Linked DNA regions of Homo sapiens. The protein of the gene in region 2 purifies or fractionates together with the protein of the main gene of each other region. This does not show direct contact. Each region holds a gene or a part of one and is shown on either strand. Other genes may lie near its edges. The genes, in order: RFC2, LIMCH1, FGL1 and CUTC.

The links.
Region 1: the proteins of LIMCH1 (region 2) and RFC2 purify together in Homo sapiens (affinity purification with mass spectrometry, with the first as the bait; one large-scale study listed by BioGRID). This does not show direct contact.
Region 3: the proteins of LIMCH1 (region 2) and FGL1 purify together in Homo sapiens (co-immunoprecipitation; one large-scale study listed by IntAct). This does not show direct contact.
Region 4: the proteins of LIMCH1 (region 2) and CUTC fractionate together in Homo sapiens (co-fractionation; one large-scale study listed by BioGRID). This does not show direct contact.

The regions. Positions count from the first base shown.
Region 1 is NC_000007.14:74,244,398-74,247,968, forward strand, and holds part of RFC2 (replication factor C subunit 2), read right to left. Parts: intron 2,367-3,571; coding exon 2,265-2,366; intron 1-2,264.
Region 2 is NC_000004.12:41,646,088-41,649,658, reverse strand, and holds part of LIMCH1 (LIM and calponin homology domains-containing protein 1), read right to left. Parts: intron 3,537-3,571; coding exon 3,379-3,536; intron 3,175-3,378; coding exon 2,766-3,174; intron 1-2,765.
Region 3 is NC_000008.11:17,878,475-17,882,045, forward strand, and holds part of FGL1 (fibrinogen-like protein 1 precursor), read right to left. Parts: coding exon 3,525-3,571; intron 1-3,524. UniProt on the Homo sapiens protein: Immune suppressive molecule that inhibits antigen-specific T-cell activation by acting as a major ligand of LAG3. Responsible for LAG3 T-cell inhibitory function. Binds LAG3 independently from MHC class II (MHC-II).
Region 4 is NC_000010.11:99,749,220-99,752,790, reverse strand, and holds part of CUTC (copper homeostasis protein cutC homolog), read right to left. Parts: intron 2,423-3,571; coding exon 2,395-2,422; intron 1-2,394. UniProt on the Homo sapiens protein: May play a role in copper homeostasis. Can bind one Cu(1+) per subunit.

The DNA.
Region 1 (3,571 bases), on a different chromosome or scaffold from region 2:
GCTGGTGTGCACTGGCACCATCTCAGTTCACTGCAACCTCTGTCTCCCGGGTACAAGCGATTCTCCTGCCTTGGACTCCTTAGTACCTGGGATTACAAGCACCATTGCATTCCAGCCTGGGCGCCACCATGTCCGGCTAATTTTTATACTTTTAGTAGAGACGGGGTTTCCACGTTGGCCAGGCTGGTTTCGAACTCCTGACCTCAAGCAATCTGCCCGCCTCGGCCTCCCAAAGTGCTGGGATTACAGGTGTGAGCCACCGCACCTGGCCCTAAAAAAAATTTATTTCGCCAGGCACAGCACCTCATGCCTGCAATCCTAGCACTTTGGGAGGCCGAGGCAGACAGATCACTTGAGGCCAGGAGTTTGAGACCAGCCTGGGTAACATAGTGAGATCCTGCCCCTGTGAAAAAAAAAATAGCTGGTTGCAGTTGCACAAGCCTGTAGTCTCCGCTACTTGGGAGGCTGAGGTGGAGGATCATTACAGCCGAGGAGTTCAAGGTTGCAGTGAGCTATGACTGTGCCATTGGACTCTAGTCTGAGTGATATAGTGAGACCCTGTCTCAAAAACTACAACAAAAAACAACGTTATAGGGTTAGGGTTCTATATTCTTTTCTTAATGTCATTTCAATTTTTTTTTTTTTTTTGAGATGGAGTTTCGCTCTTGTTGCCCAGGTTGCAGTGCAAATGGCATGATCTCAGCTCACCACAACCTTCGCCTCCGGGGTTCAAGCAATTCTCCTGCCTCAGCCTCCCAAGTAGCTGGGATTACAGGTATGTGCCACCACACCTGGCTAATTTTGTATTTTTAGTAGAGACGAAGTTTCTCCATGTTGGTCTCCATCTCCCGACCTCAGGTGATCCGCCTGCCTCGGCCTCCCAAAGTGCTGGGATTACAGGCATGAGCCACCGAGCCTGGACTCAGATTCTTCATTTATACCAACCGAAGTGTTGTGATGGTTGCACAACATTGCAAATGTACTAAATGCCACTGAACTGTATACTTCAAAATAGTTAAAATGGTAAATTTTGGGCCGGGCGCAGTGGCTCACACCTATAATCCCAGCACTTTGGGAGGCCGAGGCGGGCGGATCATGAGGCCAGGAGATCAAGACCATCCTGGCTAACACAGTGAAACCCCGTCTCTACTAAAAATACAAAAAAATTAGCTGGGCGTGGTGGAGGGCGCCTGTAGTCCCAGCTACTCGAGAGGCTGAGGCAGAAGAATGGCGTGAACCCAGAAGGTGGAGCTTGCAGTGAGCCAAGATTGCGCCACTGCACTCCAGCCTGGGCGACAGAGCAAGACTCCGTCTCACAAAAAAAAAAAAAAAAAAATTTATGGTTAATTATGTCCATTTAACCACAATAAAAAAATTTACAGGCCAGGCACAGTGGCTCACACCTATAATCCCAGCATTTTGGGAGGCCGAGGCGGGTAGATCACCTGAAGTCAGGAGTTCGAGACCAGCCTGGCCAACATGGCGAAACCCCATCTCTACTAAAAATACAAAAATTAGGCCAGGCTCGGTGGCTCATGCCTGTAATCCCAGCACTTTGGGAGGCTGAGGCGGGCGGATCACGAGGTCAGGAGATTGAGACCACCCTGGCTAACATGGTGAAACCCCTTCTCTACTAAAAATACAAAAAATCAGCTGGGCGTGGTGGTGCATGCCTGTAGTCTCAGCTACTCGGGAGGCTGAGGCAGGAGAATCACGTGAACCCAGGAGGCGGAGGTTGCAGTGAGCTGAAATCGCACCACTGCACTCCAGCCTGGGAGACAGAGCGAGACTCTGTCTCAAAAAAAAAATAAATAAATAAATACAAATACAAATACAAATACAAATACAAAAATTAGCCGGGTGTGGCGGCAGATGCCTGTAGTCCCAGATACTTGGGAGGCTGAGGCCAGGGAACCGCCTGAACCCGGGAGGCGGAGGTTGCAGTGAGCAGAGATCACACCACTATACTCCAGCCTGAGTGACAGAGAGAAACTCCATCTCAAAAAAAAAAAAAAACAAAAACCCTCATTTAAATTATTAACGTAAGAGATGCTGAAACCAGCACATTAAATGAATGACTATCTTAGACAAATGTTTGTAAGTTACTTAATAAAGATAAGATTTAAGGTGCAGGCCCCTATTAAATTGCTTGTGGAAGATATGATAAGCAAATCTACCATAAAAGTGCTTTTTATCCTGATTGAATAAAACCGAAAAAGAGATTTAGAGATCAAGGTCAAAATACATTTGGCAAAGCACTCTACCTGTCTGCTTCATCCAGAATGATGATCTTATGTCGGCCTTTGGGAAGAGTGACTTTTTGTTGAGCAAACATTTTAATTTTATTCCTCACAACGTCAATGCCCCTGAAAGAATGACAGGTTTTTACTGGCACCTTCTGAGACCAATTCAGTTGCCTTCACAAGGACTTTTAAACAATCGGTATATCAGGGACTGTGAGGCCCAATTTCCATTTTTGAGTTTTTTTGGGGGGCAATTGTAACTATTTATAAGGATTGAGATTTTATGGCATTTGTTCTTTCTTGGAGGTCTTTCAAAGAACAAAGAAAATATACACTTTTTTTTTTTTTTTCTTCAGACAGGGTCTCGCTGTGTCATCCAGGCTGGAGTGCAGTGGCCCTCTTGGCTCACTGCAAGCTCTGCCTCCCAGGTTCAGTGAGCCGGGATCACGCCACTGCACCCCAGCCTGGCGATAATTCGTCTCAAAAAAAAAAAAAAGCCTCATCCTTCAGTTTTTTAACTGCATTGCTTGAGATACCATATTATCTTTCAAAAGATGTAATAGAAGTGCAGATATACCACCTTTGTTATCTTGTAAGCTTTCACTAACCACAGCCAAGAATTCAAAATTTTTCATTCTCTACCCACAACAGGAAAGAGAAAAAAATTGAGAGGAGGACTCTTCCTAATTATTAGGTGAATCAGAAAATAACTGCAATGTAGGCCAAGCATGGTGGCTCACACCTGTAATCCCAACACTTTAGGAGGCCAAGGTGGGCGGACCACTCCAGGCCAGTTTAAGATCAACCTGGCCAACACGGCGAAAATCCATCTTTACTAAAAATACAAAAATTACCTGGGCGTGCCCGCGCACGCCTGTAGTCCCGGCTACTTGGGAGGCTGAGGCACGAGAATCGCTTGAACCCAGAAGGCAGAGGTTATGGTGAGTCGAGATCGTGCCACTGCACTCCAGCCTGGGTGACAGAGCAAGACTCTGTCTCAAAAAAAAAGAAAGAAAGAAAAGAACAGAACAGAACAGTACAGAACTGCAGAGACACCAATAGCAACATTCTAAATGCTACTGATGGTGAAATTGATCAATAAGCAAAATCTCAGACTATGAATCTTCAGATGCCAATATCCTCCAGACATTTTCCCTAACTGAAGAATCAAGGAGTGAACAATATGCAGCTGTCCCTTGGTGTTCCTGGGGACTGGTGCTAGGCCCTTCCTCAGACACCAAAATTCACTTTTGCTCAAGTCCCTTATATGAAATGGTATAGTATTTGCATATTAACTTATACACATCCTCCAGAACACTTTATTTTTA
Region 2 (3,571 bases):
AGAGGGAGCTGTGCAGTTAGGTGACCTGATTGAAACCTGGCTCTACCATTTAACAGGCATGGAATCTTCAACAGGTTTCCTATTCTCTGTGCTCTGATGCAAAATTTAAAGTAACAGTATCTTCCTCATAGTGCTGTTATGGAGATTTTATGGATTATCAAATGTACAGAATTTAGAACAGTACCTGACACATTTTAAGTGCTTAACTATTAGCCATTATTATCATTAGGCCTCTTATTTATGTATTTATTTATTTTTTGAGACGGGGTCTCACTCTGTCACCCAGGCTGGAGTGGAGTGGTGTAATCTCAGCTCACTGCAGCCTCCACCTTCCTGGTTCAAGCAATTCTCATGCCTCAGCCTCCCAAGTAGATGGGATTACAGGCGTATGCCAACATGGCTGGTTAATTTTTGTATTTTTAGTAGAGACAGGGTTTCATCATGTTGTCCAGACTGGTCTCGAACTCCTGGTCTCAAGTGATCTGCCTGCCTCGGCCTCCCAAAGTGCTGGCATTACAGGTGTGAGCCACCTCGCCCAGCCTCATTAGGCCTTTTAAAATCTTTTAAAAGAAATAATGGAAGGCTGGATATTAGTTATAGTTTATTTACCTTAAGCCACTGGTCTTTTTACTCTATTATTTGTTACCCATAAAAAGAAATTTAAATCACAACTCAGCACACACACACACACATAAATATAACTGAAACAGAAGTTGCCCCAAGCAATTTTGCCTTCATTGTGTGACACACTATGTTTTTTTATTATATTCTATTCTAGTTCTTTTTTTTTTATATTGGCTTCAAACCACTAAACTGATTTTATAACCTAGCAACGGGTGGTAACTTTCAGTTTGAAAAACACTGCCTTAAACTATTTCTCTTGATCTTCCTTTATTCTTAATTCTGTTGTACTGGAAAAACAACGGGGCCTGTATTCCCTGCCCTGCCCTCCAAGAAGACACACACACACACACACACACACACACACACACACACACACCCCTACCCCTTAGCTTCTGTCCTGGCATTATTAGCTGGTAACAACGGTCTGATTTGCATGTTACTTTGACCTTTGACCAAAGTTGCTGTCCATGCACTCAGTAATGGAACTGTAGGCCATCAGTAGAAATACTAGCCAGTGAGGCCTACAATGAGGCAGGGGACCCCCACTAGTGAGTGATGAGGAGTAATCTCCAGCTCTAAGAGGGCCTCTGCTCAAATTCTCTAATAACCCCCTCCATGGAAGTGCTTCCTGAGGCCGCCATACCACCTTGCTCCACTTTGCCGCCATGGTGAAGAACAGAGTTTTCTCAGAGCTGAAGTTCTGCCATAAAATCATTTATGCTAATCCTTCTGTTTAAACGATCACTTTGCACTATTTAGATAAAGGAGGGAAAGTGGACATCTAGAATGTTTGGTCAGATGCCTTGGAAATCCAGTTAAATAAATGTATTCTCTATCCTATTCTGGGCCACCTCAACATAGAATCTTCCTTCAGGAAATACCATAGCCATTCATTATCATAGGCCCTAGGTGAAGGAAAGCTTCTGAAACACTTAGGTGGACCACTGAGCACACATGAGCATGTGTGTGTCTATCTGTGTGTGTGTGAGTCCATATGATTAGTAGCTCATCTTCTCAGGAAAAATTCACTTATTTATTTAAGGAGCACTTGCTGAGTGCCTACTCTGTCCTGGGCACCTGTGCCAGGCTCTCAGGATGAAGCCATGAATGACAGAGACATGGCCCCTGCCCTTATAAGGGGACAAACAGCTCAATGTGATCCAGATGAGACAGTCTGGACATTTTTGTTCTATCAAAGCCTAAGATAGAGATTTTTGAGATACATTCAGAGTTATTTCAGCAAAAGTCAGAAAGTGTGGTTTTGTTCTCTTTGAAATACAGCAAGGAAGCTACGTGGCATCACACTGCTCAATCAGTTACGAAAACTTTTCTATCTAATGGTCACATCTCCAAGTGATGCATTCCACCTCTGTTTATTACAAACTCATTGAGTGCAAGGACAAGGGGAACTGATTTTTCTTTACAAGTCAAAAGAACTTAAGACAAAGGATGAGTGCTTCCTCCTGATATAAGAGAAAGTACTTGAATTTGAGGAAGCGAAAAGATGTTTGGTTTCCACAAGTTCTTCAGTCTGGAACACTATTTTACACACTCATTAGCAAAACAACCCAGTTTCTTTCCACTTGTTTAAAAAACCTGTCTCATTTGAGGACCAAGTATGTCCCATGTTCCCATGTGTTCCTTGTATTTTTATCAATTGTAAAATCTTTTTGGATGCTACAATGTCAAATGGATGCTGAATGCCAATTTCTTCCTAAAAGAGAGGTAGCTGCATATACTTCTATTTGAACCAAAAGCAAATAAAATTTTGTTTTGAGGAGTCTGCCATACCTCCTGATACCTAGAAATACTAGGGTATTACTAAATTAGGGTTTTTACCACTAGTACAGAGAAATCATGCCATTATATCAAACTAGAAAATAGACCTTGCTCATGGAGACGACTCCACTATCAGTCTTATAGGAGTCCATCTGTATTAACAACAGCAATTGAGGGAAACAGCTGTCCCTGAAGCATTTACAAACCAAATCTCCAGAGACCTATGACTTTCACAGCTGTAAATGTCAACACATTTTTCTTTTGTATGGTAAAAAGAATGACATTTTCTTGAGTCATGATGCTTCTTTCCATCCACTCCCTGGAGTTCAGCTTTGGTTCTACTCTTAAGGAACTTGTCCTACCTTAAAGGTCTTCAGAACATCTTGAGAATTTTTGGGCTGGGAGTAAGGCTTGGGTGTCAGCATAGGCACTGCTTTGGGAGTGACAGTTTTGCTTGGAGACCCACTGCCTGCTGACATGCTGGTATCCAGAACACTGGCACGAGCAATGGTGGTTTCAACAGTGGCAGTGAATTTGGGTGGAGGCAGTGACTGTTGCCGCAGGTATTTCATGGGATTGGGGTCATTCAGGAAGGAGGATAAATTTGGCTCTGTTGAATGGCTTCTTTCCAGAATTTTTGGCATCTCCAAGCGTTCGAGAACAGCCTCACTGATGGTGAACCTCTCAATGTACTGTTGAAGGATCCCCTCTGCCTCCTCCTGGGACCGAGCGTTCTTATATGCTTCATGCAGCTCTCTCTCTCTCCGCTCTCTAAAGGACATGGGAGAAGCAATAACAAAGTCAACTAATGAAAATTGCAAAGAAGACCTTGGTAGAAACGAAGGTAGCACTGAAGAGATAGTACAGGGAATATAAAATGTTACTATCAGAACCTTTGTGACAGCCAATAATTTTTAGAAAAAAAAAACACCTAGATAATATTGTACATTAAAAACGACAACAGAAAGAACTCACTTTTCTTGAACAATTTCTCTGTAGGTTTTGATGCTTTTCCTTCGTTCACTTGTCCCATCTTCTCCAGCCAGTAACTTCTCCATTTTTTTCCTTTCTTCCTCTTTCTTGATTAAGTCCTGAGAAACACTTCTTCTACGACTCTTCCAACGAGCCAGGTCCTGGCAGGGAAAGAAAGATATAATATTCTTCTTCA
Region 3 (3,571 bases), on a different chromosome or scaffold from region 2:
GCTCCTGAAGAAGGGGAGATGCTGGAGCCAGTGGTGTTGTCAAGTGAACGGCGGTGGTGACGCCAGATTTTTGTTCTTGCCACCAGTTAATGTGAATTTGACACAGTAACCTTTTAATTCATAATCCGCTAGCACCCAAATTCTTTAAAAAAAGATACAGCTTAATAGTATGCTGTAGAAAATCATGTGCCTAGTGCATTGTTTGCACAAATTGCTAGGTTGTATGTAATTGGGTGTTTTCTACCATCAGATAAATTAGAATTCAGAAAATAACTAATTTAGTAATAATAAAGTAACTTGTAAATAAGAAGAAAAGATTTATATTTCTACAGATTATATGTATGAATATTTAATTGTTTTCAATTTAAGGACACCAAAAACATAAACTTTGAGGTGAACAAGTTCTTATATATTTTATACCATATTATATATATATAAAACACTATACTTTATTGGAATTTTTATGTTATATATTTTATTTATTGAGTATCTGTTCTTAGTAGCCTCTCCAGTACTATCTCCCTATATGCTAAAATATAAAGAACAATTGAACTGTGTTTATATTTTATTTCCCCTTTTTCTTCTTCATGCTTGTAATTAATATATGAAAAATATTGTTTTAATCTACTGAATTCTGATTTTTTTGGCTTTTATATCAAAAAACAGTCATCTAGAATTCCTATCATCTGTCTTATTATTATAACAGTATTATATTTATAATAATTATAATGTTTTTTCTGAAGCATCTCTATATGACTCTTCTAACTCCTGCTTGTACAGTTAATCCTGCTCTGACCTTGGCATCGTAATTTCCAAGTAACTGATTTCTTGCCTTATTCCTTGGTGACCCCTTACTTCCCAAAGTCTGCTCCCCAGCAGTGTCAACACAAGGACTGGATCTTCAGCTCTTGATATGATTTGGATGTGTGTCCCCACCAAATCTCATGTTGAGTTGTAGTTCCCAGTGTGGGAGGGAAGGCCTAGTGGGAGGCGATTGGCTCATGGGGGTGGAGTTGTCATGAATGTTTTAGCACCATCTCTCTTGGTACTCTACAGTGAGTGGTGAGTTCTCATGAGATCTGGTTTTTGAAACAGTGTCGCACCTCCTCCCTCTCTTTCTCCTGTTCCCACCATGTGAGATGTGCCTGCTTCTGCTTTGCCGTCTGCCATGATTGTAAGTTCCCTGAGGCCTCCCCAGAAGCAGATGCTGCTATGCTTCCTTTACAGCCTGCAGAACCATGAGCCAATTAAACCTCTTTTCTTTATAAACGACCCAGCCTCATTCATTTCGTTATAGCGGTATGAGAACGGACTAATACAGCACTTAAGCCTCAGTCTTCCCATGACTGGTTGTAGAGGCCTGGGAACAAACATCTGATTAGCTGCCCCCTGCCATGATTGACCCTTGAGTCTGTGCCAATAACCTGCTCAGAATGTGTTCAAATAGAAACCCCAAGTCTTGGGCTTGGTTTGAAATTTGGAGTAATGATGATCCACTGGCATCTACGAGTTCCTCGCCCTTGAGATCAGCTTTGTATGTTCTTTTGGGATCACTTATCTGTATGCTCATCCCTTAAACGATAGTCCGTTTGCTTCCCAAGCCCATTTTTACCCGAACTGTCCCTGGTTCCTCTTGGCTCCAGAGGCACTGGCCATCTTCAGGCTATAGCCATCCCCACTACTGCAGACCACTGGCTCTGGCCTCTTTCTGATCTCTAAGGGCCAGAGGGAGGGCAGTTGGATCAAGATGCTGGCCATAAGAGAAGCAGGAGCCCAGGGCGAGGAGTCTGAGCAGAGGGAGATAAGGATCTTGGTAGAAAAAAAGGGAGCATTTTAAGAGTCTCATGCGCTACAGTGTGAGCCAGCCAGGTGCCCTGAAGCATTTTATGGAAGCATAGACTCTCACAACTCCTATATCCTACACTTGTATGATTAGAAGCAGAAAATAAACATGTTTCTATTCCCATAAGATTGGCAACTCTTTGACCTCTACAGTCTTTCAATTCTAGTCAAATAGGTGTCCGAATTTATATTTGCTTATCTTGCTATTCCTCTCCCTATGAACTACCTTCCTTTCATTCCTGAATATGAGGATCTACTATGTTTCAGGCACTCTAATAGCCAACAGGGAGATAAAAGTACATTAAATATCATTCTAGACCTCACAGAGTGCCCAGTTAATTGACCTCAATAGACTCATAAACAGAAATTACAATGTAGCATGGTAGTGCTAGAATAGACATATGGACAAAGTGCTTTCGCTAGCATTCTTTTTGTTTCTGACAATCGTCGTTTACTCTAAAAGATACCTTTTACTTCTGGAGGAATTCAAGTGAACAGTTTTCCATAGAGAATAATGATTTGTGCAGCAATGTGTGTAATGTGTTGCCAGTTTAAAATCATTTAGTTTCTGGGGAGAAATACCTCATTGAAAGGAACATTATGAAATCAGAAAATATACATATAAAAAACTACTCTTTTATTTTCCTTAGTAATTCTGGTTCTTTTTCCTTTTTCTGCTCCTTTATTTTTTACCTTATTTGCCACCCTAATGCACATTAGGATTTCAGAAGGGAAAACTGCATACATGCAACAAGGAAAGATACACAAACACAAAGCTCAAATGCAAAAATTCCCAATTGTAATCTGCCATGTGTACACGGATTTTTTTTTTTTTTTTGAGACAGAGTCTTATTGTGTTGCCCAGGCTGGAGTGCAGTGGCACGATCTTGGCTCACTGCAACCTGCGACTCCTGGGTTCAAGTGATTCTCCTGCCTCAGCCTCCCAGGTAGCTGGGACTACAGGCACCTGCCACCACGCCCAGCTAATTTTTGTATTTTTAGTAGAGATGGGGTTTCACCATATTGGCCAGGCTGGTCTAGATCTCCTGACCTTGTAATCCGCCCACCTAGGCCTCCCAACGTGCTGGGATTACAGGCGTGAGCCACCGCACTTGGCTGTGTCCATCAGTATTTAAACAATCTATTGTCCTGATTTCTTATTAAATGATATAAATTCTCAGATATTTAGCATTCACATTAAATGCCCTGGCAGAGATAGAAAAAAGTAAAGTGTCGGCTGGGCACGGTGGCTCACGCCTGTAATCCCAGCACTTTGGGAGGCCGAGGCAGGCGAATCACAAGGTCAGGTGATCGAGACCATCCTGGCTAACATGGTGAAACCCTGCCTCTACTAAAAATACAAAAAAAGTAGCCGGGCCTGGTGGTGGGCACCTGTAGTCCCAGCTACTCGGGAGACTGAGGCAGGAGAATGGTGTGAACCTGGTAGACGGAGCTTGCAGTGAGCCAAAATTGCACCACTGCACTCCTGCCTGGGCGACAGAGCAAGACTCCGCCTCAAAAAAAAAAAAAAAAGTAAAGTGTGAAAGAAGACATTTACAATAGATATAATGCTTCATATTGCTTGTTACTGAAATAGGAAAAGCCTGAAATAACTAGCACCATCACTGTACATGGGTGCATAATGTAAGTTATAGAAACACTTAAGAAAAGTCCATTCTGACCTGCATACTGCCTCTTGCTTCCAAGATCAATGACAGTATTCTCATCT
Region 4 (3,571 bases), on a different chromosome or scaffold from region 2:
ACACAATTAACATTTACCTGATAAGGTTTGTTAAAGAAATTAATCACAAATATTTTTGTATGTAACATCTTTTGACCTGAGTCAGCTTCTTGAGAACGTAGTTTCTTGTGTAGCTTTGCATCCCAAGTAATGCCTTGCACACAGCTGATAACAATTGCATATTAAACAAAGGTACTCTTAATGTCAACAATTGTCTAAGTATTACTTGTCAAAACTATATATATTTAGTGCTAAATGGAAAAGCATCACACTCAGAGTCTCTTTAACATTCCTTGATTAACCAAAAAGGACCACAATTTGACAGATAATATATACTTTCTCTCTGCTTATGTTTCAAGGGCTTGTTATAGGTCAAAGCCTTCCTAAATATCTGACAATACCCCTTATATGGCCTTTTTTTTTTTTTCTTTTGACACAGGGTCTCACTCTGTTGCCCAGGCTGCAGTGCAGTGGTGCGATCATAGCTCACTGCAGCCTTGACCTCGGGCTCAAGAAATCCTCCCACCTCAGCCTCTAGAGTAGCTGGGACGTCAGGAGCACGCCACCATGCCCAACTAATTTTTTTACGTTTTGGTAAAGATGGTGTCTTACTATATTGCCCAGGTTCACGGCCTCTTTTTAAAAGTTACTCTTTATCTAGGTGTCACTATTTTGAACGCTGGTCAGTCTTGACATCACTAGTAGTGAGATGACCAGAGACTGAATACCTTCTGATGTGATGTCATATGATGTAAGTATGCAGAATCACCCATGAAGTATTCTGACCAAAAATATTTAAGCAGAGTCTATTCAAACCTCATGATTTAACTATTAGTTTATAGGATATACAGAGGCACGAGGAACAAGCTAAACAATATCATGAGGAAATAATCTGATAAATCCAGAAAGTAGGACATTTTACAGGGTAAGTGATCCAAACTTTTATTTTATTTTGAGACGGAGTCTTGCTGTGTCACCCAGGCTGGAGTGCAGTGGTGCAATCTCAGCACACTGCAACCTCCGCCTCCTTGGTTCAAGTGATGCTCATGCCTCAGCCTCCCAAGTAGCTGGGATTACAGGCACATGCCACCATGGCCGGCTAATTTTTGTATTTTTAGTAGAGACAGGATTTCACCATGTTGGCCAGGCTGGTCTCGAACTCTTGACCTCAGGTGATCTGGCTGCCTCAGACTCCCAAAGTGCTGGGATTACAGGCGTGAGCCACTGGGCCCAGCCCAAACTTAATAATGTAACTTTTTTTTAAAGCAAGAAAAATAAAAGGAAAAACATCTATATTAAAGATATTTTAAAAGATAATAGAACTGGGCATGGCAGCGTGCAACTGTAGTCCCAGCTACTTGGGTGGCTGAGGCAGGAGGATCGCTTGAGGCTAAGAGTTCAAGTCCAGCCTGGCCAATATAGCAAGACCTCATCTCTAAAAACAAACAAACAAACAAAAGATAACCAAAAATGTAATGCTTGTTCCTTGACTGGATCCTAGTTTGAACATATCAGCTATAAAAACCATTGTGGGGACAATTGGAGAAAGTTGAGTATTAAATGTTTATTGTGATAGATGTGATAATGGAATTGTCATTATGGTAACATCCCACCCTTTTTAGAGATAAATAAAGATAAAATGCCATGATGCTTTCAATTTAACTTTAATAAAATACCTCAGGATAGAAAAAAGATGAGACAAATTTGGCAAAATGTTAAATCTAGGGAATGAGCATATGAGTATTCATTATGCTATTTTCTACTTTTTTATATGTTTGAGAAACTTAATTAAAAAAATTAAGATTGTCTTTACATTTGTCTCACTCTTCTATGTTGTATTATCTAATTCTTTAAAAACTGCTCCAACTGTTCATTTCTAGTTAGCCATTATGAACTTAACTGATCTTATGGTTATCATCAGGATCATATGATTAAATTCTGGTTACAAGAAATAATTTGGCAATCAGAGATTTTCAGGAACTGAGACAGTATTATATTTTACCCAAGGATGTTGCCTAAACCTTTGCTTAAACCCTGTTTATTAGGACATTTGTCCTAAACAAAATATGATTAGCATCAAATTTGATGTGCCTCACCAGAGATGAACATCTGAATTCATAAAGTTCTATATAATGGGAGAGCAAATATGGAGAAACCTCAATCTCTATCTGCTTCCTTATTTGCTCCTCTTTGAGCTAATGCCTATTACAATATTTTCCTTCTTATCTAAACTTTTAAATTCTAGCACAGATCTCCCAGTTTTAAACATTTTAATCAAACTATATATTCTTCTCTTTAAAGATCATGTACTAATATGTAATGTACTAATACTCTCTCTCACATTTTCCTGCCTCCTTTGCTCTTCCTCCACTATAGTTCAGTGTTATGCTAGTGAATTGATAGATAAATAAATACCTGGCATTACCACAATCCTGCCTTTTGCCTGAAAAAAGAAAAAAAAAAACAAGTGAATTTTAATATCTTTCTCTTGAATGGGATAATAAGGCAGTGAGAATAGAAACATAAGTCAGAATATATTAAATTTTAAAAATTACTATTAATGTTTAATTTTTACTAGATCTTCTCTATTTCTTTGGGATCTTGGACAAGTAAGATGTCCAGCATAGTAAATTTGTCTCTAGAAAATTATCTTTCCAAAAAGTCATTTTCCCCCCCAATAAGTGCCATTTTCTCCTTCCCCTTCACCTATTAAGATGGTATATAAGCCCCCAATTCTAAGTCATATTTCTTTGTGAACTTCTGTATGTACTTACATATATATGTACTTATGTGATAAAATCTCTTTTTACTCCTGCTAATCTGTCTTTAGTCAGTTTAATTTGCAGGCCCCCAATAACAAACCCTGAGGATAGAAGAAAAGTTTTTCCTCCCTGACATGGTGAGTAAGAGAAAGTTCCTGCTCTCATGGAGCTTACACATTCAAGAAAGACGAGACAATGCACAGGGATATTTATACAATAAAATTCCAGGTAGCAATAAGTATAACAAAGAAAAAATAAAGCAAGTGAATAAATAAAGCAAAAAATAAAGTTAACAAGAGAGTGAAAGAGGGGAGTGGCTATTTCAAATAATTTAAAAATTGTTAGGGAAATAAATGGAACAAGGATGCTTCATATTCTCAAATGGCCTGAACAAAGCATCCATAAAACAAAACATTGACTATCTAAAAAGCTGAAATCACTTCAGAATGGAAAAAAGTCATATTTGCCTGTTTCTTCCAAATCAAGGCTTTCCAAAACATAGAGAAATAATATTTTTAAAGAAATGAATTCTACCATTTCTTTTCGCCTTCCATACAAGATTATTTAGAAGTATATGCTTATCTAAGGCTATCAAAGTGATTTAATAATATAGAGCAGTCACTAAATGTCAGATTTAATAATATAGAACAATTACTAAGTGCTATAACCTGAAGAAATCCCTCACAACTATTCTAGGAGGTAGGTGCTATTATTATCCTAACTTTGCAGAAGAGCAAAGCTGAGGTTTAGGATGGCTAGGTAATGTATCCATGGTCACTATTAGTAAGGGTCAAAGCCAGGGTTTAAACACAGACCTGTCCAATCACAAA